Linked DNA regions of Homo sapiens: regions 2, 3, 4, 5 and 6 are each linked to region 1. The links come from fine-mapping of genetic effects on gene expression. A gene starts in region 1. Each other region holds a variant in brackets. All regions are shown on one strand. Distances are between the middles of the regions.

Region 1 (4,081 bases):
TACCTGTCTCCCCTAGTAGAATATAAATTCCTCATGGACAGGGACCTCGTGCTCTCCCACACCCAGAGAAATGAAAATTCCCTTGCACTTCAAATGCTGCCCAGAACCCTGTGGGTTCTCAAGGACTGTTGTCAAACACTTCACTTATTTATCAAATGCTTATGTTGCACTTGGTATGTGCTAGGCTCTTTTTAACATGTCTTACAAATATTAACTCATCAAATCCTCACAATTGAGACTCACGCTGGCCTCGTCTCAGATGAAGAAGCTGAGGCACAGAAGAGGTAAGGCACTTTCCAGTCCACCCAGCTCATAACAGTAGCCGGGGGATTTGAACCCACGGAGTTCAGCCCATGTTCTCAAGTGTGGCACCTTCCCTGCCCCCCTGCACAACAGCAGGGCCATGCCTTCACCAGGAGGCTCGGGGCAGGAGGGGAGGCAGTGGTGTTACTTTGCACAGGTCTTTAACCTGGGAATCAGGAATTCAAATCTTGTTTCTACCCCAAGCTTTGCTGTGTGGCCTTAAGCAAACCTATTCCCTCTCCGGGCCTCAACTTTCTGTCCATTTACAGGGTTGGGCCTTCTCTCACCTTGTGTCATTCCTGTCCTCTTAACCGCCACTGTGTGAACCAAAATTCTCTCCCATTAGCAGCGGGGTCTTGAACTTGTGTTCCTCCCACAGTGCGGAGCCTTCTGCCAGGTGACCACGACACTGGCACTCCCCATCACTGACCTGGCTACTACAGGAACGGCGTTCCCTCCGGGAAAACCGGGGTTCTGTCCTCTCCAACTCCAGGCCTCTGGCCCCGGCTCCCCTTCCCCTCATCTTCCTCAGGGCTTGTCCTTCTCCCGGAACCCAGGCCTTCAGGGCCCCGCTCTCCCACACACGCCCCGGCCTGGGCCTCCCACCCGCCCAGTCCGCCCTCCACCACCGAGACACCTGGCCAGGGGGCCTCCACCTCCCTGGGAAGGCCCCGACCCTTCCCCTCTGGTTGCGCGCCACAGCCCCCTTCTCGCTCCCTCTCCTCCCCGCGCCTCTTTTCCAGGCGGCACCGAAGTCCTTCCTACACACACGCTATTTTTGTACCATCATCTCTTCTTCCTCTCCCCTTCCCCCTGCGTTCACTTACTTCCTTCTTTTCCTTCACCTCGGCCCGGCTCTGAAAGGATCGGGCCCCTCCGGCCCGCACCCACCCCCAAGAGGGGCCTTCAGCTTTGGGGCTCAGAGGCACGACCTCCTGGGGAGGGTTAAAAGGCAGACGCCCCCCCGCCCCCCGCGCCCCCGCGCCCCGACTCCTTCGCCGCCTCCAGCCTCTCGCCAGTGGGAAGCGGGGAGCAGCCGCGCGGCCGGAGTCCGGAGGCGAGGGGAGGTCGGCCGCAACTTCCCCGGTCCACCTTAAGAGGACGATGTAGCCAGCTCGCAGCGCTGACCTTAGAAAAACAAGTTTGCGCAAAGTGGAGCGGGGACCCGGCCTCTGGGCAGCCCCGGCGGCGCTTCCAGTGCCTTCCAGCCCTCGCGGGCGGCGCAGGTCCGGGCCCGGCAGGGACGGGGAGGGGCAGAGCGGGACCGGTCGGGGCTGGGGACCAGCCGCGCGGGCTTCTGAACGGGCACGCTGTCGGAGCCGGAGGCTCGTCTAGTCCCGAGCCCCAGCGGGCCGCGGCGGCTCGCGGGGCCGCCTTCCCGGGACAGCAGCCGGGGCCCGGGCGCCGGCGCGGGGGAGGACGCTGCCCTCCCCGGCCGGGCGCGCAGCTCGCAGCCCTCGCTCCCTCCCCCGGGGCGCGCAGGCGGGCGCTCGCTCGCAGAGAAGGTGCCGGCGGGGCCGGAGCCCCGAAGCCTCCCCGGGCGGCGGGAAGACGGGAGGAGGGGAAAGGGAAGGAGGGAGGGGGTCGGGCTGCCGGGAGGGCGGGGGCAGCGGCCGGGACTGCGGGCCGGGAGCGAGCCCAGCCGCCCGCGCCGTGTGGAGCCCGGGCGGGGCAGGTGGGCAGCGGCGGGGGCGGCTCCGCGCGGCCGGGCTCGGCCGTGCTGCCCCTCGCCCCTGCTCGCGCGGTCCTCTCTCCCGCGCGGTCTGTCGGTCTGCGCGCCGCCTCGCTCCTCGCTCCTCGCTCTCCCCCTCTTTCTCCCCCTCTCGCCTCTCCGTGTCTCTGGCTCTCTGCCTGGCTCCCTTGGGTCTGTTTCTCTCTCCTGCCGCCTCTCTCTGGCCGCCCCTGGCTTTATTTCTCGCGCGCTTGGGGTCTCTCCCAGTCTCCGTCTCTCCATTTCTCCTGGGGGGCGGGGAGGGGGGGTCTCCAAAAACCGCGGCGGCGGCGGCGGCCGCTCCAGGCGCCCGTTCCGGAGTCGGGGGGAGGCCCAGCCGGGAGGGGGGAAGGGGGGGAGCCTTAGTCATTTCCCCGCTCCAGCCTGCTCCCGCCCGAGCGCGCACTCACGGCCGCTCTCCCTCCTCGCTCCGCAGCCGCGGCCCATGGAGCCCGCCGGCCCGGCCCCCGGCCGCCTCGGGCCGCTGCTCTGCCTGCTGCTCGCCGCGTCCTGCGCCTGGTCAGGTAAGCACCCCCCCGCTCCCCACCGCTGCACTCCCCAAACTGCGGGCTCAGGCCTCTCAGACTGGCACTGGGACCCCTTCGGCTAATGCCGAGCAGTAATAGGGGGAGAGACGCCTGTAACCAGGGTTATAGATGCAGAAACTGAGGCCCAGAGAGGGCCAGCGACATGCCCAAGGTCACACAGCCAAGGGTAGAACCCAAGTCTCTTCTATGAGAGTTTGTCTCTGTGGACTCTGACTCTGTGCACTGTGCTGGGCACTGAGACAAAAGAGCCGAGTTGCTTCACTCAGCCCCTGCCCGGTCCAATGGGGAAGGCTGACTGACAGTGGCTTTCAGAGCAGGGCCGTCCGGCTTCCCCAGAATCTGTCCCCATGGACATACGACTTTCCACATGTTTGACTTCAGGGTGTGAGGGGAGGAGGTGAGGGCAGAGGTCCTCCCGATGCTGCCTGGAATGGAACAGAGACAAGCTGTTGCAATTAGGGAAGAGTGAGCCCTCCCTCTGGTGCGCAGAGTAAACCGGTGTTAGTGTGTGCCTGGGAGAGAGGGAGCCGGGAGGCCGCGGTAACCCCAGAGCGAGCTGCTGCGAGCAACAGATCCTTATGTAAAAACACGGTGGATTGTCCCTGTGGTTGCCAAAGCCTCTCCCTGGTGGTCTTGCTCCTTGAGGCGCTCCCAGCTCCCCCTTCCTCCTGCCTTCCCCGAGCTTCCAGGCAGCTCCCTGCAGTTCAGGTGCTCCGCGGGGATGTTACCTGTGGCTCTGACCATGTCTTTCTGTTGGCCTACATCAAACACCTGGCTGTCGCCGGCAGGCGGGCTCTGAAGGCTACTGTGCATGTTCACCAAAGGGTGAGGTCACCATTCAGGAGTCTTGCTTCTTAAATGGGTTTTGCAAAACCATGGGTCTCCTGGGAGGGCACCGGGTGGGGGGCGGGGGGAGCAGAGAAATGGCATTAAGGGAGTTGGGAGGGAGAGAAAAATGGGGATCTTGTTTTTTGTCGTCTTGAAACTGTGTTGTAGGCAGTGGGGTCTCTCTGTACCTCCCACCCTTGAGGAGGGAGGTAAAGATGAGCTCAGTGTCCAACACCCCCTTTTGCGTTTGACTAGAGATGGTAACCATCTGATAGCAGGGAGAAAGGGAGAACTAGCAAAGAGTGGGTGGAAGGAGAAGTATGGGGGGTAGACAGCTGCTTCTCTCTGCCCTGCAGTTTCCCCTGAAACCCAGGAATTCACATAGGCATCCCCCCACCCCACCCCACCCTCCACCCCCAGTTCTTTTCAGTTATAGTTGCGTCCTTGCTGGGCTGAAGGGAGCACTGATACAGTTCACGTCTCTCCAGTGAGTGGCATCTCCTATCTGCTCCTTCCTGCCTGAGCTGGCCATTTGTACCCTGCAAAAGTCCGAGTTCCTGCCCTGCCATCCTTCCTGGCCTGGAAATGCACAAGTGTCACTCACAAGTGCTTAATTTTCCTGAAGCAGGGAATTGGGCCCGAGTTAATTTCTAAATGTCTATTCCAGACCCTTCTCCGACCAGGAGGCTGT
Region 2 (4,087 bases), 68 kb after region 1:
TTTGACTATTTAAAGCAAAAATAACAACAGTGTACTGTGGAGTTTATAATATATGAAGCAATACTATGTATAACAAAAACAATACAAAGGCCAACAGGGGAGAAATGGGAGTATAATGTTGTAAGGTTCTGATTCTGTATGTGAAGTGGTATAATATCATCTGAAAGCAGACTGTGATAGGTTAGAGATGTGTATTATAAACTCCAAAACAACTGCTAAAATAATTCAACAAAGAATTATAGCTAATAAGCCAACAAAAGAGATAAAATGGAATCATAAAAAATATTAATCTAAAAAAGAAGCAGAACAAAAAAGAAACAAATAACAAATGGGGGAAACAGAAAATAAATAGCAACATGGTGGATTTAAACCCAACCATATCAATTATCACCTTAAATGTAAATGGTCTAAACACCCAAATTAAAGAGGCAGAAATTATCGGATTGGAACTTGCCGAGGTCATCTCCTAGACAGAGGTGGGGGTGGGCAGCCCTGGCAGCTGTGCTCTAGCATCTCATTTTGTTGCCTCTTAGACATGTGGTCCCTTCTCTGTGGGCCAAAATGGAAGTCAGGACGCTTTATGCCAGGAGTAGAGAGTGGAGACTTCCCAACATGTACTATGGAATGTCAATGCACAGCAGCACTGAATTAATCTCAGACAGCAGCTGCTAGCACCTCTGAATGAGTCTTCATTCACCACCACCTTCTCCCCGAGATCACTGGCTCTGATTCCGGAGTTCACCTGACTACCATAATCCTAGCAGCTGGGTAACCTCTGGGCGGCCCATCCCACCCTCAGGACAGTGATCTGCCAGCCAGCATTACAGACAGGATCTCCCTGTCAAGACAAATGCTTGGAAACCAGCCCTAAATGCCAAGCAACCAGATTGTTTTCCCCACTTGATGTCATGTGAGACTTTGTCCAATGTCTGCAGAGCTTCTCCCATGGCAGGATAAGCGGCCAGGCTGGACACACAATCTCAGAGGACCCAGACATCCATAGAGATATTTCGTTCATTCATTCATTTGTCCATAGAATGCTTATTGAGTGAGTACCTTCTGTGTGTCAGGCACTGTTTTAGACACTGAGAAAGCAGTGAAGACTGTGAAAAGGCTTGTGTCTCCCAGGGGCTTGCGGTCTAGTGAAGGGAGACAGACAGATATGCAATGAAATATGATGACTGGTAAAATAGCAATCCTGACAAGGTCTGATGGATGCACCCAACCAGGTTTGGAAGGATGAGCAAGAGTCTTCTCGGGGGACAAGGCAGGGAAGGCCACCACAGGCAAAGTTCCAACAGTTACAAGGTGGCAAAAGTGAGTAGAAGTGGGATGTGTTGGGAATGTCTGGGGCTCTGGTCTGCAAGGATAGTACACGTGAGGATGTAAGAGCCAGACAAGCCTGGAGAAATAGCATGTGCCAGATGATAAAGAATCTGTATGCCTGGCCAGGGAGTTTGGACTTGACTCCCTGGCCTGGAACAAGGTATCCTTAAAGGATTTTATGCAGGTGGATGGCATGAGGATATTGGAGCTTCAGAGAGGCTACTCTGGAGGCAGAGGAATGGGCATGTGGGGTCTGGGGGAAGCCGCTAGAGGAAGAGAAGTGAGAGACAGGGCTGGTAGGGAGAGGCTGGCCTAATGGGGGTCAGAGTTAGGTAAATATCTGTCTGGCTGACAAGGAGGAGGTGATGAAGAGGTGAAAGGGGCAGGGCCTGGAGACCTATCAGACATGGGGGAGGCGTGGAAGCTGGGGAGGTCTGTGCTAGAGCTGATCTAGAAGATGTTTCTGTGGGGGTATCACAGCCCAGGGTATCACCACAGACAAAGGGGAAGCCTGGGGGGGTTGGGCAGTGTTCTCTTCACTGCTGGCTCTGACAGTGATGAGGAAAGGTGAGCCCTGTTACCGACGACACTATGGGTAGCCTGGATTTCTTGCAATCCTATAGGACTGCCCTGTCAAGCTGATGGAGGAGGCCAGAGGGGGACTAGGGTAGACCGAGCACCAAATGTGGCCATCCTCACAATACACAAAGCTAAGAATCTCAGGAAGCAATGCCTGGGAGAGTAGTGGGTGTGATCTCTCCACTGCCTCCCTGCCCTTCCTAAGATCCAGCCACACTTGCCCGTCCCCA[A/G]TCACGCTGTGCCCGCTCTGCCTCCAAGCGTGTATATATGCGATTCCCTCTGCCTGAAACTCCCACTGCCTCCATCCTGCTCAATGCGGCTGACTTTTCCTTTAGGACTCAGCCTGGATTTCCCAGCCCTCAGGTGACTTAGGGTTCCTCTCTGCCACCCTCCCCTAGCTTCTTGTCTCATTTCTAATCACAGTGATATGGTGCCCTTTCTTCTTGTCACTGACCACTACTAGATGGTAAGTGCCTTGGAGGTTGAAATGGGTTGTATTATTTCTTAATTTTCAGGGTCAGCATGAGGCCTGAAAGAATGGACAGGCAATGTAGGGGTGGATAGAGGGAAGAAGGGAGGGATTGATGGAGGAGTGACTGGAGGAACCATAGATGGAAAGAAAGAAGGAAGGGACGGAGAAAAGAAGGAGGGAGGGAGAAATGGAAGGAAAGAAAGAAGACAGGGAGATATGGGTGGACAGGGGAATGGATGGATTTATGAGAGATTGATGGATGTATAGGAGGAATGAAGGATGGATGGATGGAGAGATTTACAGACACATGAGAGTATGAATTAGTGAAGGAATGAGTAAATGATTGATGGAGTAGTAGAATGAGCAAATAATGAGCAGGTGAATAAATAAATAAATGATCAAAAGAATGAATGAACAAGTGAATCAATGTTTGAGTGGATGAATGAATAAGTAAATAAGAAAATAAGTGACTGAGAGAATGGATGAATAAATAAGTCAGTAAACACTTTGCATAAAATAAAATAAAAAATAAATGGATTGGTGAATGAGCTGATAAACGAAAGTAGTTAGTAAAGAAATATCATTGGTCATCTGAGCCTCCCCACCCAGCAATATTTGTAGCCCTAATTTCTTCAGCCAGTTGTGGACGTGGCTGTATCCCCAGTGCTTATAACTGTATCTGGTGCATAGTAGGTATTCAATAAACATTTGATGAATAAATCAATGGATGAACGAGTGTCGGTAGATCCGTTGACCCAGTGCTGTGGCAAACACTGAGGTTGATATTAGGAGCCTGGTTTTTAATCCTAGCCCTTTGCTTTTCAATGATGTCACTTTGAGCTCAGCCCCTTTCTTCTCTGAGCCTGTTTCTCTATCTGTAAAATGGAAAAATTGCCTTTATTTGTCAAGGCTAAGGTAAAGATGTGATTGTTACCAGAAAGGGGTCCTGATCTAGACCTCAAGAGGGGGTTCTTGGACCTCGCACAGGAAAGAATTCAGAGGAAGTTCATAAAGTGGAAGCGAGTTTATTAGGAAAGTAAAGCACACACAGAGCAGTGGCGTGGGTTGCTCAACTGAGTATACTTACAGTTATTTCTTGATTACCTGCTGAACAAGGGGTGGATTATTCATGAGTGCTCCAGGAAAGGGGTGGGCAATTTCCAGAACTGAGGGTTCCTCCCTGCTTTAGACCATATAGGGTAACTTCCTGACATTACCATGACATTTGTAAATTGTCATGGGTGCTGGTGGGAGTGTCTTTTAGCATGTTAATGCATTATAATTAGCGCATAATGAGCAGTGAGGATGACCAGAGGTCACTTTCATCACCATCTTGGTTTCAGTGGGTTTTGGCTCTTTTTTTTTTGTTTTAACCACATCCCGTTTTATCAGCAGGGTCTTTGTGACCTGTATCTTGTGATACTAGTCCTGCCAACCTTCTATCTCATCCTGTGACTAAGATTGTCTGACCTCCTGGGAATGCAGCCCATTAGGTCTCAGCCTTATTTTACCCAGCCCCTATTCAAGATGGAGTCACTCCTGTTTCAATGTCCCTGACAGAATAATAAGAGCCACATGGAAAAAATAAGGGCTCGACAAGTATTCATTCACTCCAGTCCCCCCATTCTTTTCGTACTACCTGAAATCCCTCCTGGGTTTTTTTAAAATTATAAAGCCCATACTATGTCTCTTCTCTTACAGAAGCGCACT
Region 3 (4,087 bases), 54 kb before region 1:
CATCACAATCCTAGCTTGTGAGGACAGGGAGGAATAACGAGGAAAATGGCTGCGTGTGCTCAGACACCTTCATTCATCCAGCCAGACAATATTATTGAGCATCTACTATGTGCCATGTGCCTCCTCCGAGCTGAGAACAGGAAGCTAACAAGGACCTACCCTCAGGAAGCTCACAGTCTCCTTCGGAAGACAATAAATACAGGAACAAAGCAACAGCTAAGAGTGACTCGGAAGACAATAAATATAGGAACAAAGCAACAGCTAAGAGTGACTCGGAAGACAGTAAATACAGGAACAAAGCAACAGCGAAGAGTGACTCGGAAGACAGTAAATACAGGAACAAAGCAACAGCGAAGAGTGACTCGGAAGACAATAAATATAGGAACAAAGCAACAGCTAAGAGTGACTCGGAAGATAGTAAATACAGGAACAAAGCAACAGCGAAGAGTGACTCGGAAGACAATAAATATAGGAACAAAGCAACAGCTAAGAGTGACTCGGAAGACAATAAATATAGGAACAAAGCAACAGCTAAGAGTGACTCGGAAGACAATAAATATAGGAACAAAGCAACAGCTAAGAGTGACTCGGAAGACAATAAATACAGGAACAAAGCAACAGCTAAGAGTGACTCGGAAGACAATAAATATAGGAACAAAGCAACAGCTAAGAGTGACTCGGTGGAGGAACCGGTTAGGGTAGTCAGGGAACACTTCTCTGAGGAGGTGACATTCGCCTGAGACAGAAGGAATGTGATGGAACTGACCAGAAAGGGTAGAGAGAAGAGTGTCCCAGTTAGCGGGAACAGGAGGTGCAAAGGCGCTGAGGTCAGAGCAGGGCTCCATGTGGCCAAGAAGCCCCAAGGAGATCAGTGTGGCTGCAATGGAGGGAGGAGACAGGGGATGAGTTTGAGAGTAACTGGAGGCCGGAGCAGGCAGGGACTTGAAGACTGAGTGATGTACTGTGGGTTTCATTCTCCATAAAATGGGACCCACAAAAGTGTTTCTATCAGGGATCATCTGGTCAAAATCGCATTTTAAGTAGCTCACTTTGGCTGCTGGCAGGAAACTGCCTGGATGGGGCAAAACAGGACATCGGGAGCCTAGCATTGGGGGCTGTCACAGCATCCAGGGGAAGGGTGGCTGCAGGCTGGACCAGGGTGATGGCAATGGCCATGGATGGTCCTTGAAATTGTGCATTCAGCACATCTTTACTGAGCTCCTATTCTGTGCCAGCCATTGGGGATGCAGAAGCCAACAAGAGAGAAATTCCTGCCTTCACAGGGCATGCAATCTAGAGGAAAGAGAATGGTAACTGAATATAATATATGCCAGTGGTAAGTGACGACAAGTGCTGTGGAAAAAATCAAAGCAGGGAAGGGTGTGGAGATCTGCCAGGGAGGAGTGGGGCAATTTGTAGTTTTAAACAGGAGAGTCGGGAAAAGTCTCATTGAAAAGGCCACATTTTAGTGAAGATGTAAAGGAGGCATGAGATAGAATCTGGGACAGAGAGTTCCAGGCAGAGGAAACAGTGAGTGCAAAGGCCCGGAGGCAGGCCCACTCCTGGTTTGTTTGAAGAAAGCAAGGAGGTCCCTGTGGCTGAGCTGACTAAGCTGGTGGGGGCGGGACAGATCATGCAGGGAAGGAAGGGAAGGAGGAAGGGGCTGAATGGGCAGAAGAGACTGGGACCTGGATGCCTATAGGAGGGAGGGAAACCAGCGAGACAGGGCCTGGCCCCTTCTCCATCCTGCTCCCCCGACCCAAGGAAGCAGCATCTCCCATTCCTCCTTTCATCCCACAAAGCTTCATCAGCCAAAAAGTGAAAGTTTAAAAAGGGAGGAACTGATCCCAGGAGAGGCAGGGCCCTGAGATTTGCCTGAACCCAGGTCAGACCCCAGCCCGGGTGGGGTGTGACTTCCTGTGGCTCTGATGGAATTCTCACTGTCCTCCTCAGGATGCATTCCTGGGCCTGAGGCACAGAAAGAGGACACACAGCCAATAGCAGCCAGTTTCAGGGCTCCTAAGCCTGCTGGGAGACACCCCCAGCCTCAGGCAGTGCTGTCGGGGTGGGCTACCTAAGCTGCAGGTGAGAAGAATGGTGGCTAATTAGGGTGCTGCCTCCTTCTCACTCTCCAGGTCCCAGGGATACCCTGAGTTGGATTTCAGGCTCATTAATGTCTTGGCAGAGAGGCTCTGGCTGTGAGCTCTCTCCAGCTGCCCAGCCTTGCCTGGCAGGAGTAGGGAATAGAAGGGAGACTCACAGGGGAGTCATCTACCCCCAGA[G/T]TCAGTCCCAAGGCAGGCCCAGGGTTGAAGGACGTCCTAGAGGACGTCCTAGAGCCCAGTGACATTGGCTGAGACACTCTCCCTCCCTGAGCCCCTTTGTCCCTGTCTCTCCAAGGGGATCATAGGCCTTTTCCCACCTGACTTCCAGAGCTGGGATGAACCCAAATAAAGGATGAAAGTGAAAGTGCCCTGAATCATTAAAGAGACAGGCAGAACTCCCTGTGCCACCCTGGAGGGATCTGCAGGATGGGTTGTTACGTAAGACAAGGCGCCTTGCAACAACTGCTGCCTGGCTGGCCTCCCAGCTTCTGCCCTTCCGTGGTGGCTGTTCTCCCCTGGTAGCCCCTGGATTCTGTTACATAAAATACCAGGTCAAAGAATTCCCATGGGACCCAGCAATTCCACATCTGGCTCTATACCCAAAAGAACTGAAAGCAGCGTCTCAAATAAGTATCCGCACACCCATCTTCATAGCAGCATCATTCACAATAGCCGAAAGGAGGACGCAACCCAAGTGTCCACTGGCAGATGAATAAATGGATAAGCAAAGTGTGGTATATACATATAATGGAATATTATTCAGCCTTAAAAAGGAAAGAAATTTTGTCACACGGTACAGCATGGATGAAACTCAAGGATATTATGCTAAGGGAAATAAGCCAGACACAAAAAGATAAATACTGCATGATTCCACTTATATGATTCATCTTGAGTAGTCAAATCCATAGCAACGCAAAGTAGAATGGGGCTGGGGGACGGGGGAATTCGTGTTGAATGGGTGCAGTTTCGGTTTTGAAAGATAAAACAGCTCTGCATGCGGATGATGGTAACGATTGCACAGTGATATGAATGTGCTTAATGCCACTGAGCTGTACACTTAAAAATAGTTAAAATGGCCAGTTTTATGCTGTGTATATTCTACCACAATAAAAAAAATTGCACCAAAAAACCCCAATGAAACCAATCCTAGCTCAGTCCTCTCCTCTGCTCCATCTTCCTGAGGCTCTGGTTGTATGCCCCAACCTGCATTCCCCATGCCACCCCATATGTTCTGCACTGCGCCTCCCTGACCCATCTCCTGCCCCTCCCCTCGCTCACTTTGCTCCAGCCCTGCTGGCTTGTTCACTCGTTCTCCAACCCACTAATTTCATGCCATGCTTGGGGCCTTGGCACCCAATGTCCTCTCTACCAAGAATCTGTCCTGGATATCTGCAGGGCTTGTTCCTCCCCATCCTCCAAGCTCAAGTCAAATGTCTCCTCAGAGGAGACATTTCCTTGACCCCCTGGACTGAAAGCACCCCCCCACAACCCCACTCCTATCCTCCTCTATCCCTTTACCTAAATGTATGTCTTTCATAACATGTATTAATATCACTACCTGGAAGAATACTTTAGCTTTGTCTGCTGGCTACTCTGTTAGAGTGTCAGCTCTGGAGGGTAGGAATCTCACTTTTTCATGCCTCACAACAATGCCTGGCACATAGTAGGTGCTCAATGAATAGTTATCAAATAAATGGAGAATGATCTTATTGATGTATGATGCATACCTATGACACACATGTTATATCTGTGCAGATGTAAATATATGGGAAAGGCCTGGAAACATGTCCACCAACATACAGTGGTGAACCGGGGAGGAGGGTGGGCAAAGAGGATGGGGGAGTGGCTGTCAAGGGGCCCTTTCAGGGTTCACTGAGTTCACTCAGCTGCTGCATGCAACTCTTACCATGCAGATCATAGGTATGTGAGTTTTAAAAAAGAGCTCTGAGGTGATGCTATGTCCCATGTAGCGTCTATGAGTGATT
Region 4 (4,087 bases), 82 kb before region 1:
TCCCCTCTGATTCGAGGAGAGAGCCATTCTGCTCTGCTTACTAGCTGCCTGTCTGCATCTGGGGACACTTACAAACCTTTGATGCCTGTTTACTCCCCTACTCGCCAAGATTTGGGTCCAGATGGCCTGGTGAGGTGGTGCTGGGCACTGATGGTTGCTAAATGCTCCCTGGGTGATCCTGGCACTTTCTAGAGTTGAGCAACTACCTTGTTACCCCAGACCCAGCCCTGACTCTGCCACACTCAGGGATCTCCTGTTAATAGGGTCCAGCCTCCTTAGAAGACAGTTTAACAACATATTTTGTTACCTGAGCCCATCTTTGGGGTCCACCATAGCTGCCTAAGTGACTTGAGGAGATATTTCTTCCAAACCCAGACAAAGAGCCTCATTCACCACCAGCACTCCTGGTGGATGACATCCTCCCTGTTACCTTATGCGACACGGGTTCCCTGTGACCATTTGGAAAGTGCAGAGAAGCACACAGGAGCTGGCCACAGCCCACTTCAAGCCCAGGAATTTGTGAACAGAAAGGAGCCATTGTCTCCAGTCACTTGAAGGGAACAGCTCAAAAACACATTCAAAGGGCCCTGATGATAATGAATATGCTAATATGATTTCCACTGGGCGCCTGTGCTACCTCCAAAAAACCCTTTCTGACCTTCCTCATGGATTCAAAGCTTTCATTGAAGTCGACAGGGGATTTTGGTTAAAATAACATGAAAGTTTTCATTTAAATGGACAAAGCTGGGAGTTGTGAATTAAGCATGAGTTTCACATTGGTCCTGACACCCCTGACCTTGATGGGGAAATGCATAGATTGTGACTGGACCTTCTGGACCTTCTAGCTATTGCCTTTGGGTGGGCAGAGCTAGCAAGCATTAAGGGTCCCTTTTGCATGACAAGTGAACTCTGGAGACCTAGGTTTAAATCCCAGCTCTGACACTTACTAGCTGGGTGACCTTGAGAAAGGCAAATCATTTCTCTGATTGAGCCTCAATTTCCCCATCTGTAAAATGGTTTGGATAATACTTCCCTTGCAGCATTGCTTCCAAGAGTGAATAAGAAGTCTGTATGTGGGAGGGGTTGGGGAAGTGGAAAACATCTTGGAGCTCCCCACCGTCTCACCCAGTCAGAGACCCAGCAAGGGTGTGAACACCTCCAGCCTCCCATATCCCAGACCTTCTTTCCTTCATTCAGCGTATATTTATAAAGCATTTCCTGGGTGCCAGGTACTGTTTTGGGGCTGGGGATTCAGCTGTGAACAGAACAGATGAACTCTGCCCTCAGTGGAGCTGCCATTGTAGTGGGAAGGACAGACATTAAACACATGAATAGATAAATAATAAGTAAGTGGGCTGGGCGTGGTGGCTCACGCCTGTAATCCTGACACTTCGGGAGGCCGAGGGGTGGGGGGGGGGGTGTTGGATCACCTGAGGTCAGGAGTTCGAGACCAGCCTAACCAACATGGTGAAACCCCATCTCTACTAAAAATACAAGGGCGTGGTGGCACATGCCTGTAATCCCAGCTACTCGGGAGGCTGAGGCATGATAATCACTTGAACCTGGGAGGCGGAGGTTGCAGTGAGCCGAGATCATGCCACTGCACTCCAGCCTGGGCAACAGAGCAAGACTTCGTCTCAAAAATAATAATAATAATATGTAAGTGGTAATAAGTTCTTTGGAGAAGAAAAACAAAGTCCTTAATGAAAAGAGCAGAGCTTTAGAATTAGACAGAGCTGAATTCAAATCTCAGCTTGCTCTTTGCTGGCTGTGTAATGCCTGGGAAAGAGATTTTATCTCCCTAACACTCTTCTGCACATTTTTTAATGAGACCCACTGATGAATCACCCACCCATTGAACAAATATTTATAGAACTCTGGGCCAGGCACGGTGGCTCATGCCTGTAATCCCAGCACTTCAGGAGGCCGATGCAGGCGGGTCACTGAGGTCAGGAGTTGGATACCAGCC[C/T]GGCCAATATGATGAAATCACATCTCTACTAAAAATACCCCCCCAAAAAAGAAAAAAAAATAGCTGGACATGGTGGCGTGCACTTGTAATCCCAGCTATTCCAGAGGCTGTGACAGGAGAATCGCTTGAACCCAGGAGACAGAGGTTATAGTGAGCCAAGATCGTGCCACTGCACTTCAGCCTGGGCAAGTGAGCCAGACTCCATCTCAAAAAAGAAAAAAGAACTCTGTCCTGTGTCAAGCATTGTTTTGAGTGCTGGGGAGGCCACAGTGAATGAAACAAAAATCCTTGCCCTTGGGAGCTTAAAATCTAAAAGGGAGAAATAGACAATTAACAAATATACGTATATCAGGTGATGAAAGAAAAAGCAAGGGAAGGAGGTCAAGAATGTGGAGGACATTATTTCAGGGAGTGGTGGTCAGGGAAGGCCTCTCTGGGGAGCTGACATTTAAGTGGAGCTTTGAAAGATGTAGGGGAGTTAGCCATGTGGGTGTCTGAAGGAAGAACCTTCCCAGTCGGAGGAGACATCAAGGGCAAAGGCCCTGAGGTAGGGCCATGCGTGGCTGTTGGGAGGATTAGGGAATTGGAGGCAATGTCTAAGACACACCCAGCACAGCCCCTGGCTCTGAGTGGGGGTTCAATCAATAGCAGTTATTATTTGTACTCATTTTATGAAAAATGCAAGAGAAGTCATTTTCCATTATTATAAAAGTTCTTGAAGGCTTTGTGGATTGATGACTTTATTCCCTTTTCTTCTTTTGTTTTTCTGAATCAGAACCAGCAAGTCCAACCCCCAAGCCCACCTGCCAGCCCGCCTCTGTGCCCCCAGTCCCAATCCGGCAGGAATGTTTGACATGCAGTGGTGCTGGAGGGAGGGAGTGTGTAATTAATGATGGTTATTAAATAATAATGCCAGCATCTTGAAGTTCTTTCCTCTCCACAGCCTCACAAATTAGACGCCTTCGAAATGTTGTGCCCGTCGCCAAGATGCACCTCCATCTGGGGTGGAAGCAACATCTGCTAAACAGCTGCATCTTGTTTAAGAGCTGGTACTTAATTCAATTATTCAGCTCTGATAGGGGCAGGCAGAGCTGAGCGGAAGGGGCAGGCCCAGTCATGGGCATATGCTGCTCCACGTCTTCCCAAGTTGACCCAAACTCCTCTCCCACAGCGTCCCCACTCGCATCTGTTGATTCAACCAACCTAGACATCTGTACATTTCCAGAACCGGCCATGCTCACTCATGCTGCCTCCTTGCTTTTTACTCAAGCTGTGTGCCCCTGCCAGGAACACTCTTCTGCTGCCTGTCCAACTCCCGTGTCCTTCGAAAGGCCCAACTCAAACATCAGTATCTCCTCCAGGACAGAGCATAGGGAATTACCTCCCATGAGCTCTCTCGGTGCTTCATGCATTCCTTAACTGGAGCATTCATAACATTACATTGCAATTTTGTGTACCCTGCTGTTTTGTAAGCCCCTTAGGCTGGGAACCATGTGTATTTCATTCTTGTTATCTCAGCATTGTACCTGACTCCCCATAGACACACCCAGCACAGCCCCTGGCTCTGAGTGTTTAGTTAATGGATGGATGGATGGGTGGGTGGGTGGATGGATGGATGGATGGATGGGTGGGTGGGTGGATGGGAGGGTGGATGGATGGATGGATGGATGGATGGATGGATGGATGGATGCATGCATGGATGGATGGGTGGGTGGATGAATGGGTGGATGGGTTGGTGGGTGGATGGATGGGTGGGTGGATGGATGGGTGGGTGGATGGATGGGTGGATGGATGAATGGATGGATGAAGAGATAGAAGAATGGAAGAAAGGAGGGAAGAACAAAGCGGTAGACAAACAGATGGACCCACTGCCACCATCTAAATCCAAACAACCATCATTTCTCACTGAAACACTGGGGTCTCTCACTGGTCTTTCAGTTTCTACTCTTGCCCCCAGTAGTCTCTTCTACTCAAAGCACTTAGTAATCTTTTGAATATGGATTTATATCATGTCACTCCCCTGTTAAAAACCTTCCAGTGGCTTCCATATTCCTAACCCTGACCTCCAAACCCCTATAGGAAACAGCCCCTGCTTATCCCTCTGATATCATCTCCTCT
Region 5 (4,087 bases), 92 kb before region 1:
TGAGGCTATTCTCATTATTAGACTGGGGTTATTATTAGACTGGTTTGGGGGAGGAAAACCACAGAGGTACAGTGTCATTCTCAAAAAGTTATATCAAGAGAATATGCTATCAATATCAATATCACTTAATGTCAACCCTGATGGCCTAGTTAATTATTTGATCAGTCTTCTGTTGAAATTATTGTTGTTGTTAATTATTATTGTTGTTAATTATTTGATCAGTCTTCTGTTGATGAGCCTTGAGGCTTGAGGTAACGTCTGTCAGGTAATGGCAAAGGTAATGTTTATATCCAAAGGTAATGTTATCACCATAATGCTAACTATAACATTATAAATATATTTTTAAATGGCCACAATACCTCAGGGCCCTTGCATCATACTCTGCCGTGTGACTTTGCTGCTCCTCCCTGGGAGAAGTGATTTCTATTTCCCCACCTCTTGAATCTGGGCTGGCTTGTGACATGTTTGCACCAACAGAATGTAATGGATGTAAATTCACACCAGTTATACAGTCTCAGGAGGCACTGCATGTTATCAGATGTTGACGGACACATAGCCTGAACACCCCTCTAACCCTAGCTGATAGCCAGTCAACTACCAGACATGTGATTTAGACCATCCTAAATAAACCAGCCCCAGCTGACCCACCCTTTCTGATCCCAGACACAAGGAGCAAATGCAAAGTTAGCTGAGCTTGGCCCAGATCAGCAGTGCTACCCAGCTGACCCACATGAGCAATACCAAAAGCTTTCTATTTAAAGCCACTGAATTTCGGAGTGGTTTGTTATACCGCAATAGCTATGTGCCTCACTGGCACCTAGGCATAACAATGCATGTAGGTGCTTATTTGTTGTAACACACTGTGATTACAGAAGATTAGAAGCAGCCTCAAGGCTCATCAATAGAACACTGATCAAATAATTACAGGAGAGCCAAACAATGGAATATTATGCAGCTGTTCAAAAGAACGAGGCAGCCCTATGTGAATCAACATGGAACAAACTCCATGATGCATTTTTAAGCGAAGCAGCAAGAGGCAGAAGAGTATACAGAGCAAGCTACTATTGATCCTGTAAAATACTTGCATTTGCATGGACTGTCTCCGGGTGGGTACACAGAAACATGTAACAATGGCTGTCTCTAGGAAGGGGAACTGGGTGCCTGGGGAACAAGAGTGGAAGCGAGACTTCCTTTTCACGCTATCCTCTTTTTTATCTTTTGAATCGTGTAAATGTGTTATCCATTCAAAAATAAATAAAACCAGAATGTAAAAACTCCTATGCCTTTCAAATGCAGAGAGCCTTATTATTCTCTTTCCAAGACTCCCAAGATCCACCGGGACCAAAAAACAGCAGTCAGGGAACAATTCCGATTTTCCCTCCTCTCTCCCCCACAGCCCCCACCCGCGCAGAGCGAAGCTGGCTTCTCCGGTAAACCCCTGCTTGTGAGTTGCGCCCAGGCGACACTACCTCGCCTGCCACCGGAGGGCAGCGCGAGGCTTCCTTCCCGGGGAGGAACTGCGGCGAGACGGTGGTCGGCCCTGAATAGCAAGCTGGCTCCTAGATCAAAGGCTCTGGCATTCCGTTTTTGCGTGCATGTTTGTTTGTTTTCTTTCTTTCTTCTTCCTCTTCTTTATTTTTTTAAAGGTCTCGACCCAAGAACCCCATTCCAGGCAGTAGGTTCGCCAGCCATTGCTTGTGCGTCTTCGCGGAGAGAGAGGGGGGAGATGCCCCGGCGCTCCTTACCCGGCTGGATAAGACCCTTTGGGGAACTTGCTGCTTCGCAAGTCTTACTTGTGAGGACCCGGAGGGTTTGCCTTTGACCCCGCCTGTGACCTTAAGAAAACCCCTTTCTACCCTGCGCCTGTCCCACAGCTGGAAGTGATAATTTTAAGAATGAATTAAGCACTCGGTGTGTGACACTGCGGCACTAAGCACTTTCTGGACTGTGTTAGGCCCCATTTTACAGACGGGGAAGCTGAGGCCTCCAGAGGCGGAGTAACCTGCTCATGGTTACAAAGCTGGTCAGCGGCGGGCAGGATTTGAATCCAGGGTTCCCGGTTCCTAATCCTCTGCTTTTACCACTTAATTTATCCTGCCTCCAAGGGCTGCTGGGAAAAAGGCGGATTTCAAAGGAGAAGCAGCTAAGGAAAAGCTCTGGAAAGGGCCAACGGAGCGGATATTCCCGGAGCCCCTCTGCGAGCCACGCGCCCCTCTGGGAAGCCCGCTTCCCCCTGCAGACAGGCGCTGTGACACGCTTGCGCCCCGGTCGAACAGGCGAAGAGGCCGAGGCCCAGAGCGGCGCAGGGCGAGCCTGGAGGCTGCGCCCCAGACCTGGA[C/G]CAGCCACGGACGCCGCTCCCGCCGCTCCCTCCGCTCCGCTGCGCTCCGCACGCTGGCGCCGGCTCCCCGAGGCCCCGGGCGCCCCGGCCGCACGCCTGGGTAAAAGGTCCCGAGGAGTCCGCAGAAGCGCGCCCACGCCCGAGACGGCCGTTTCCGCCGGCCTGGGAAAGGGGCGGAGAAGGGGGTCGCCCGGGCCGCAGCGTGCCGGTCCCCGCCGGCCGAGCCGTGTTTGGGGCCAGTCCCCGCACCCCGCTTCTTCCCCACCTGGGGAGCGGGGCGCCGCGGTAGGGGCACTGGAGCGCACGATGCACCCCGCCAACGAGTCCTTTCTGCAGACGGGGTTCCTGTTTTCATGCAAATGCCTTTGTTAGCGCACCGGGAACCAGGGGGACGGAACTGCAGCTGACGCGGGCTGCGCGCCGCTTTTCCGCCTTCGCTTGATTCGGCCTCAACGACTTAAACGCGCCGGGAACAAAAACGCCGGCGCCGCGGAAACCCTCAGGAGCGGCACGAGAAGCGCGGCTCCGCTGGGGTCCGCGAGAAGCGGTGCGGGCGGCCGGGCTGGTGCCTGCAGGCCCTCTCACCGCATCACCAAGGGCAAGGAACCTCCAACTGTCCCTCAGTTTCTCTACCTGCACTGGGATGTCCTACATAAGGAGTCAGCTCAGTGCCCGCATCTTGCTGTAATTATTTTGTCCAAGCACTGTGGGAGGCAGCGTTGAGGAGGCTGTTGTGGGGAGTTTGCCTGTCAGAGAGAAGAGGGAAATAAACAAGAAACATACAGACAAAATAATTTCAAATAGCAACAAGTGTTAATATCGTAGCAAACACCAATGCAGCGCTTATGCCAGGCTCTGCTCTATGCTATATGCACATTAGGTCATGTAATCCTCACTCCCTTGTACAGATAGGAAAATGCTGGTTGAATAATCTATTGAAGGGAAATAGGAAGTTGAACAATATGTGGAGAAACAGGTTGCACGATAGGTGGAGAAACAACAGGTTGCACGATATGTGGGGAACCAGGTTGAACAATAGCCTCAAGTGCGCAGTAGGTAGGCTCGGCACTTGAGAATATTGGGCCCAGCCTGGGTTTCGACCCAGCCAGTCCAGCCCCAAGTGGAAGCTTTTGCACACTCCATTACACCAGTTTTGGCTGTACTAGGAAGGATGTAAAGTGGTGACACGCCCAAGAGAGAGCTGGGGCTAGACAGGAGCTGCTCCTAAAAGGATGTCAATGGACGTCTCTGTGCAAGAGAGTAAGCTGAGGCCTGCACAGTGAGAGGAACTAGCCATGCAAAGAGCTGGGCGTGTCCAGCAGAGAAAACAGCAAGGGCAAAGGCCTTGAGGTGGGAGAGTAGATGTGGGGTTTCATGAACATAAGGATGGAACTCAGTGAGCAGTAGTAAGGAGACTGGAGATGGTCAGCAGCTGGGGGTAGCAGGCTTTGCAGGTCTCGGCAAGGAGCTGGACTTTTATTCTAGGTGTGATGGGAAGTTGTGTTGTTATGGCCACTGAAGGAGTTGCGTGGATGGAGTTGGACCAGAGGGTGGGTGCCCTTCCTGCCTTGCCAGCCTTAGGTTCAAGGAGGAAGTTGATTGCTTAGGCCTTAAGCTTGCCCCTCCTCATCTGACCTCCTGGCTTCTAGGACATTCCTGAGGACGTACACCAAGTCTCCAACATTACCTGATGTCAGATCAGGTAAGCCCTCATCTTATAGATAGGGCTAAGACTGAGGCCCTGACTTC
Region 6 (4,087 bases), 43 kb after region 1:
CTTGGCCCTGCCCTTGTGACCCATGGGGTCCCCCCGCAGCCCCGGACATGAGCTCGAGTTGTAATTAAGAAAAAACAATTTCCAGTCATGAGCGAGGGAGATCTTCTCCCCCATCATTTTACTTCTGGACTTCCTCCTGGAATCTTCTGGGGGAAAAAAATGATGGTGAGAAGAATGGGTCATGGAAACCTCTACGAAATTCACAGCAGAGACTTACTGGGCACCCACTGTGTGCCACGCACTGGACAGTGAGCCAGACAGTCACAGCCCAGCTGGCAGAGTGCCTGCGATTCCAGTGCCAGGTGCCAGCCCTGGCCAGGGAGGGAGTTGCACGCTGTCAACACGGATTTCCCAGACAGAAGCAAATGAGAGCACGCAGGGCTCAGGACAGAGGAGCTGTGTGCTAAGAGCACAGTCGTAGAGTCCAACACACTTTGGTTCTTTGCCAGCCGGACAACTTTGTCCACTTTATTGAACCTCCCTTGGTCTCAGTGTCTTCAGCCGTAAAGTGGAATAGATAATCCTTCCCAAGCAGGGTTGTGGTAAGAGTGGATGGGGTGATCTATGTGATTGTGTGCTGCTTGTAAGCCCTGAGAACTGAAATCAGCCATTACCGTGCACCAACTAGGAGGTGTGCCGGTTGGTGGTAGCTTTATTCTGTTCTATCACGCAGGGGCCAGTCACAGAGGGAGCAAAGTTTATCATTCATGATGGGCGCTTTTGAGGCGGCAGTGGCAGGTTGATAGGATTAGCACATGGGAGGTATCCAAGTTTGCTAAGTGGTTAATGATTGCGAACATTTATTGAAGACAGATGCTCAATAGGTACCAGGCTCTGTTCTAAACGCTTTACCTGGATAATCTCATTCCATCCTCACAGCAACCCTGGCAGTAGACACTATTATCATCCCCTCTTTACAGATGGAGAAACTGAGGCCCAGAGAGGTTAAGTGAATTGCTCAAAATCCCTGAGCTAGAACCAGGATTCAAACCCAGGCTTTCTGACTCCAGAACGTTTCCCGCTTCACTAACTGGCGATCTCGTTCTTATACTGCCCCTGTTCTCTGTCTCCCTGTCCCCAGCTTTGCCCTGAGTGAAGGTGAAATTATTGCCATCCACTCATATATTCATTCAATATGGATCAGACTTCTTATGTGCCAGCCTTGGTTTCTGAATCATAACAAATGCCCAGTGAATATTTGTGGAATAAACGCATACATTAATGAATGTCCCCACACGTACCACCATCAGCAGCACCTCCTCAGGCCCCCAAACAGACATGGTCCTGGGTAGCGGGCCCTGTGATGGAAAACAAACATGGGCTGAGGAAGCACAAAGAAGGAACATGGACCCTGCCAGGAGAGGGGAGAGCCAGGGAGGGTCTTAGTATGAGCCATGCTTCATCTGAAATTTACATGGTGGATTGGGATTTGTTACAAGGAGAAGCAGGACAGACACCCTCGAGGGATGAACATGAGAAATGGGTGAAGACTGCAGGTGGTTCAGGCTAGGAGGAGGCAGGAACGGGAGGAGGTGACACTGAGGCGGGGCTGTGAGGAGACTGCACTGTGCGGGTCAGAAAGACCCTTCAGGCAGGGTGAGGAGGAGGGCAGATGGGAAGGGGCAAGGCTGGAGGCAAGTAACGTTGGCAAGAGATGAGGGGAACATGACTTATGGCTGAGCCAGTGTGGGCCGAGAGGACACAGAAGCATCCAGACTTGGTATTCAGTTTGAGTGAGTGGGCCAGGGGCTATAGAATGACCTTCTCATGACTTTCTCTTTGGGTATCTTAAATCCAGGACACAAATGATATCACATATGCAGACCTGAACCTGCCCAAGGGGAAGAAGCCTGCTCCCCAGGCTGCGGAGCCCAACAACCACACGGAGTATGCCAGCATTCAGACCAGCCCGCAGCCCGCGTCGGAGGACACCCTCACCTATGCTGACCTGGACATGGTCCACCTCAACCGGACCCCCAAGCAGCCGGCCCCCAAGCCTGAGCCGTCCTTCTCAGAGTACGCCAGCGTCCAGGTCCCGAGGAAGTGAATGGGACCGTGGTTTGCTCTAGCACCCATCTCTACGCGCTTTCTTGTCCCACAGGGAGCCGCCGTGATGAGCACAGCCAACCCAGTTCCCGGAGGGCTGGGGCGGTGCAGGCTCTGGGACCCAGGGGCCAGGGTGGCTCTTCTCTCCCCACCCCTCCTTGGCTCTCCAGCACTTCCTGGGCAGCCACGGCCCCCTCCCCCCACATTGCCACATACCTGGAGGCTGACGTTGCCAAACCAGCCAGGGAACCAACCTGGGAAGTGGCCAGAACT[G/T]CCTGGGGTCCAAGAACTCTTGTGCCTCCGTCCATCACCATGTGGGTTTTGAAGACCCTCGACTGCCTCCCCGATGCTCCGAAGCCTGATCTTCCAGGGTGGGGAGGAGAAAATCCCACCTCCCCTGACCTCCACCACCTCCACCACCACCACCACCACCACCACCACCACTACCACCACCACCCAACTGGGGCTAGAGTGGGGAAGATTTCCCCTTTAGATCAAACTGCCCCTTCCATGGAAAAGCTGGAAAAAAACTCTGGAACCCATATCCAGGCTTGGTGAGGTTGCTGCCAACAGTCCTGGCCTCCCCCATCCCTAGGCTAAAGAGCCATGAGTCCTGGAGGAGGAGAGGACCCCTCCCAAAGGACTGGAGACAAAACCCTCTGCTTCCTTGGGTCCCTCCAAGACTCCCTGGGGCCCAACTGTGTTGCTCCACCCGGACCCATCTCTCCCTTCTAGACCTGAGCTTGCCCCTCCAGCTAGCACTAAGCAACATCTCGCTGTGGACGCCTGTAAATTACTGAGAAATGTGAAACGTGCAATCTTGAAACTGAGGTGTTAGAAAACTTGATCTGTGGTGTTTTGTTTTGTTTTTTTTCTTAAAACAACAGCAACGTGATCTTGGCTGTCTGTCATGTGTTGAAGTCCATGGTTGGGTCTTGTGAAGTCTGAGGTTTAACAGTTTGTTGTCCTGGAGGGATTTTCTTACAGCGAAGACTTGAGTTCCTCCAAGTCCCAGAACCCCAAGAATGGGCAAGAAGGATCAGGTCAGCCACTCCCTGGAGACACAGCCTTCTGGCTGGGACTGACTTGGCCATGTTCTCAGCTGAGCCACGCGGCTGGTAGTGCAGCCTTCTGTGACCCCGCTGTGGTAAGTCCAGCCTGCCCAGGGCTGCTGAGGGCTGCCTCTTGACAGTGCAGTCTTATCGAGACCCAATGCCTCAGTCTGCTCATCCGTAAAGTGGGGATAGTGAAGATGACACCCCTCCCCACCACCTCTCATAAGCACTTTAGGAACACACAGAGGGTAGGGATAGTGGCCCTGGCCGTCTATCCTACCCCTTTAGTGACCGCCCCCATCCCGGCTTTCTGAGCTGATCCTTGAAGAAGAAATCTTCCATTTCTGCTCTCAAACCCTACTGGGATCAAACTGGAATAAATTGAAGACAGCCAGGGGGATGGTGCAGCTGTGAAGCTCGGGCTGATTCCCCCTCTGTCCCAGAAGGTTGGCCAGAGGGTGTGACCCAGTTACCCTTTAACCCCCACCCTTCCAGTCGGGTGTGAGGGCCTGACCGGGCCCAGGGCAAGCAGATGTCGCAAGCCCTATTTATTCAGTCTTCACTATAACTCTTAGAGTTGAGACGCTAATGTTCATGACTCCTGGCCTTGGGATGCCCAAGGGATTTCTGGCTCAGGCTGTAAAAGTAGCTGAGCCATCCTGCCCATTCCTGGAGGTCCTACAGGTGAAACTGCAGGAGCTCAGCATAGACCCAGCTCTCTGGGGGATGGTCACCTGGTGATTTCAATGATGGCATCCAGGAATTAGCTGAGCCAACAGACCATGTGGACAGCTTTGGCCAGAGCTCCCGTGTGGCATCTGGGAGCCACAGTGACCCAGCCACCTGGCTCAGGCTAGTTCCAAATTCCAAAAGATTGGCTTGTAAACCTTCGTCTCCCTCTCTTTTACCCAGAGACAGCACATACGTGTGCACACGCATGCACACACACATTCAGTATTTTAAAAGAATGTTTTCTTGGTGCCATT

Which allele goes with the higher level. Alleles are on the strand shown, and positions count from the first base shown. SD is a standard deviation of normalised expression in the study named. Not every link is listed here.
For the expression in tibial artery of the gene that starts at base 2,419 in region 1, allele T in region 4 goes with a lower level than allele C (small effect, 0.26 SD a copy in GTEx).

The links.
Region 2: its variant is fine-mapped to the expression of SIRPA in whole blood (TOPMed, PIP above 0.99).
Region 3: its variant is fine-mapped to the expression of SIRPA in whole blood (TOPMed, PIP above 0.99).
Region 4: its variant is fine-mapped to the expression of SIRPA in tibial artery (GTEx, PIP above 0.99).
Region 5: its variant is fine-mapped to the expression of SIRPA in whole blood (TOPMed, PIP above 0.99).
Region 6: its variant is fine-mapped to the expression of SIRPA in whole blood (TOPMed, PIP above 0.99). The same link has a PIP of 0.9 or more in monocytes.

Annotation. Positions count from the first base shown.
Region 1 is chr20:1,892,989-1,897,069 of GRCh38, forward strand. It overlaps SIRPA (signal regulatory protein alpha), which reads left to right and starts at 2,419. Exons shown (of 8, transcript NM_001040023.2): 1 at 2,419-2,538. The coding sequence starts at 2,460. LOC102724545 (a long non-coding RNA gene) reads right to left here and starts at 1,262. Exons shown (of 4, transcript NR_186374.1): 1 at 1,131-1,262. RefSeq lists silencers at 1,383-1,642, 1,653-1,772 and an enhancer at 3,064-3,579.
Region 2 is chr20:1,960,687-1,964,773 of GRCh38, forward strand. All of the region lies in intron 2 of PDYN-AS1 (PDYN antisense RNA 1), which reads left to right. Among named protein-coding and RNA genes, the nearest start is that of PDYN-AS1, 16 kb to the left of the region's middle. RefSeq lists an enhancer at 3,876-4,087. The variant A/G (reference allele first, on the strand shown) is at 2,136.
Region 3 is chr20:1,839,414-1,843,500 of GRCh38, forward strand. No RefSeq gene overlaps it. Among named protein-coding and RNA genes, the nearest start is that of SIRPA, 54 kb to the right of the region's middle. The variant G/T (reference allele first, on the strand shown) is at 2,283.
Region 4 is chr20:1,811,351-1,815,437 of GRCh38, forward strand. No RefSeq gene overlaps it. Among named protein-coding and RNA genes, the nearest start is that of SIRPA, 82 kb to the right of the region's middle. The variant C/T (reference allele first, on the strand shown) is at 1,970.
Region 5 is chr20:1,801,009-1,805,095 of GRCh38, forward strand. No RefSeq gene overlaps it. Among named protein-coding and RNA genes, the nearest start is that of SIRPA, 92 kb to the right of the region's middle. RefSeq lists a silencer at 2,364-2,613. The variant C/G (reference allele first, on the strand shown) is at 2,339.
Region 6 is chr20:1,935,522-1,939,608 of GRCh38, forward strand. SIRPA (signal regulatory protein alpha) reads left to right here. Exons shown (of 8, transcript NM_001040023.2): 8 at 1,799-4,087. The coding sequence ends at 2,047. Among named protein-coding and RNA genes, the nearest start is that of PDYN-AS1, 9.6 kb to the right of the region's middle. RefSeq lists enhancers at 1,547-2,101, 2,102-2,654. The variant G/T (reference allele first, on the strand shown) is at 2,320.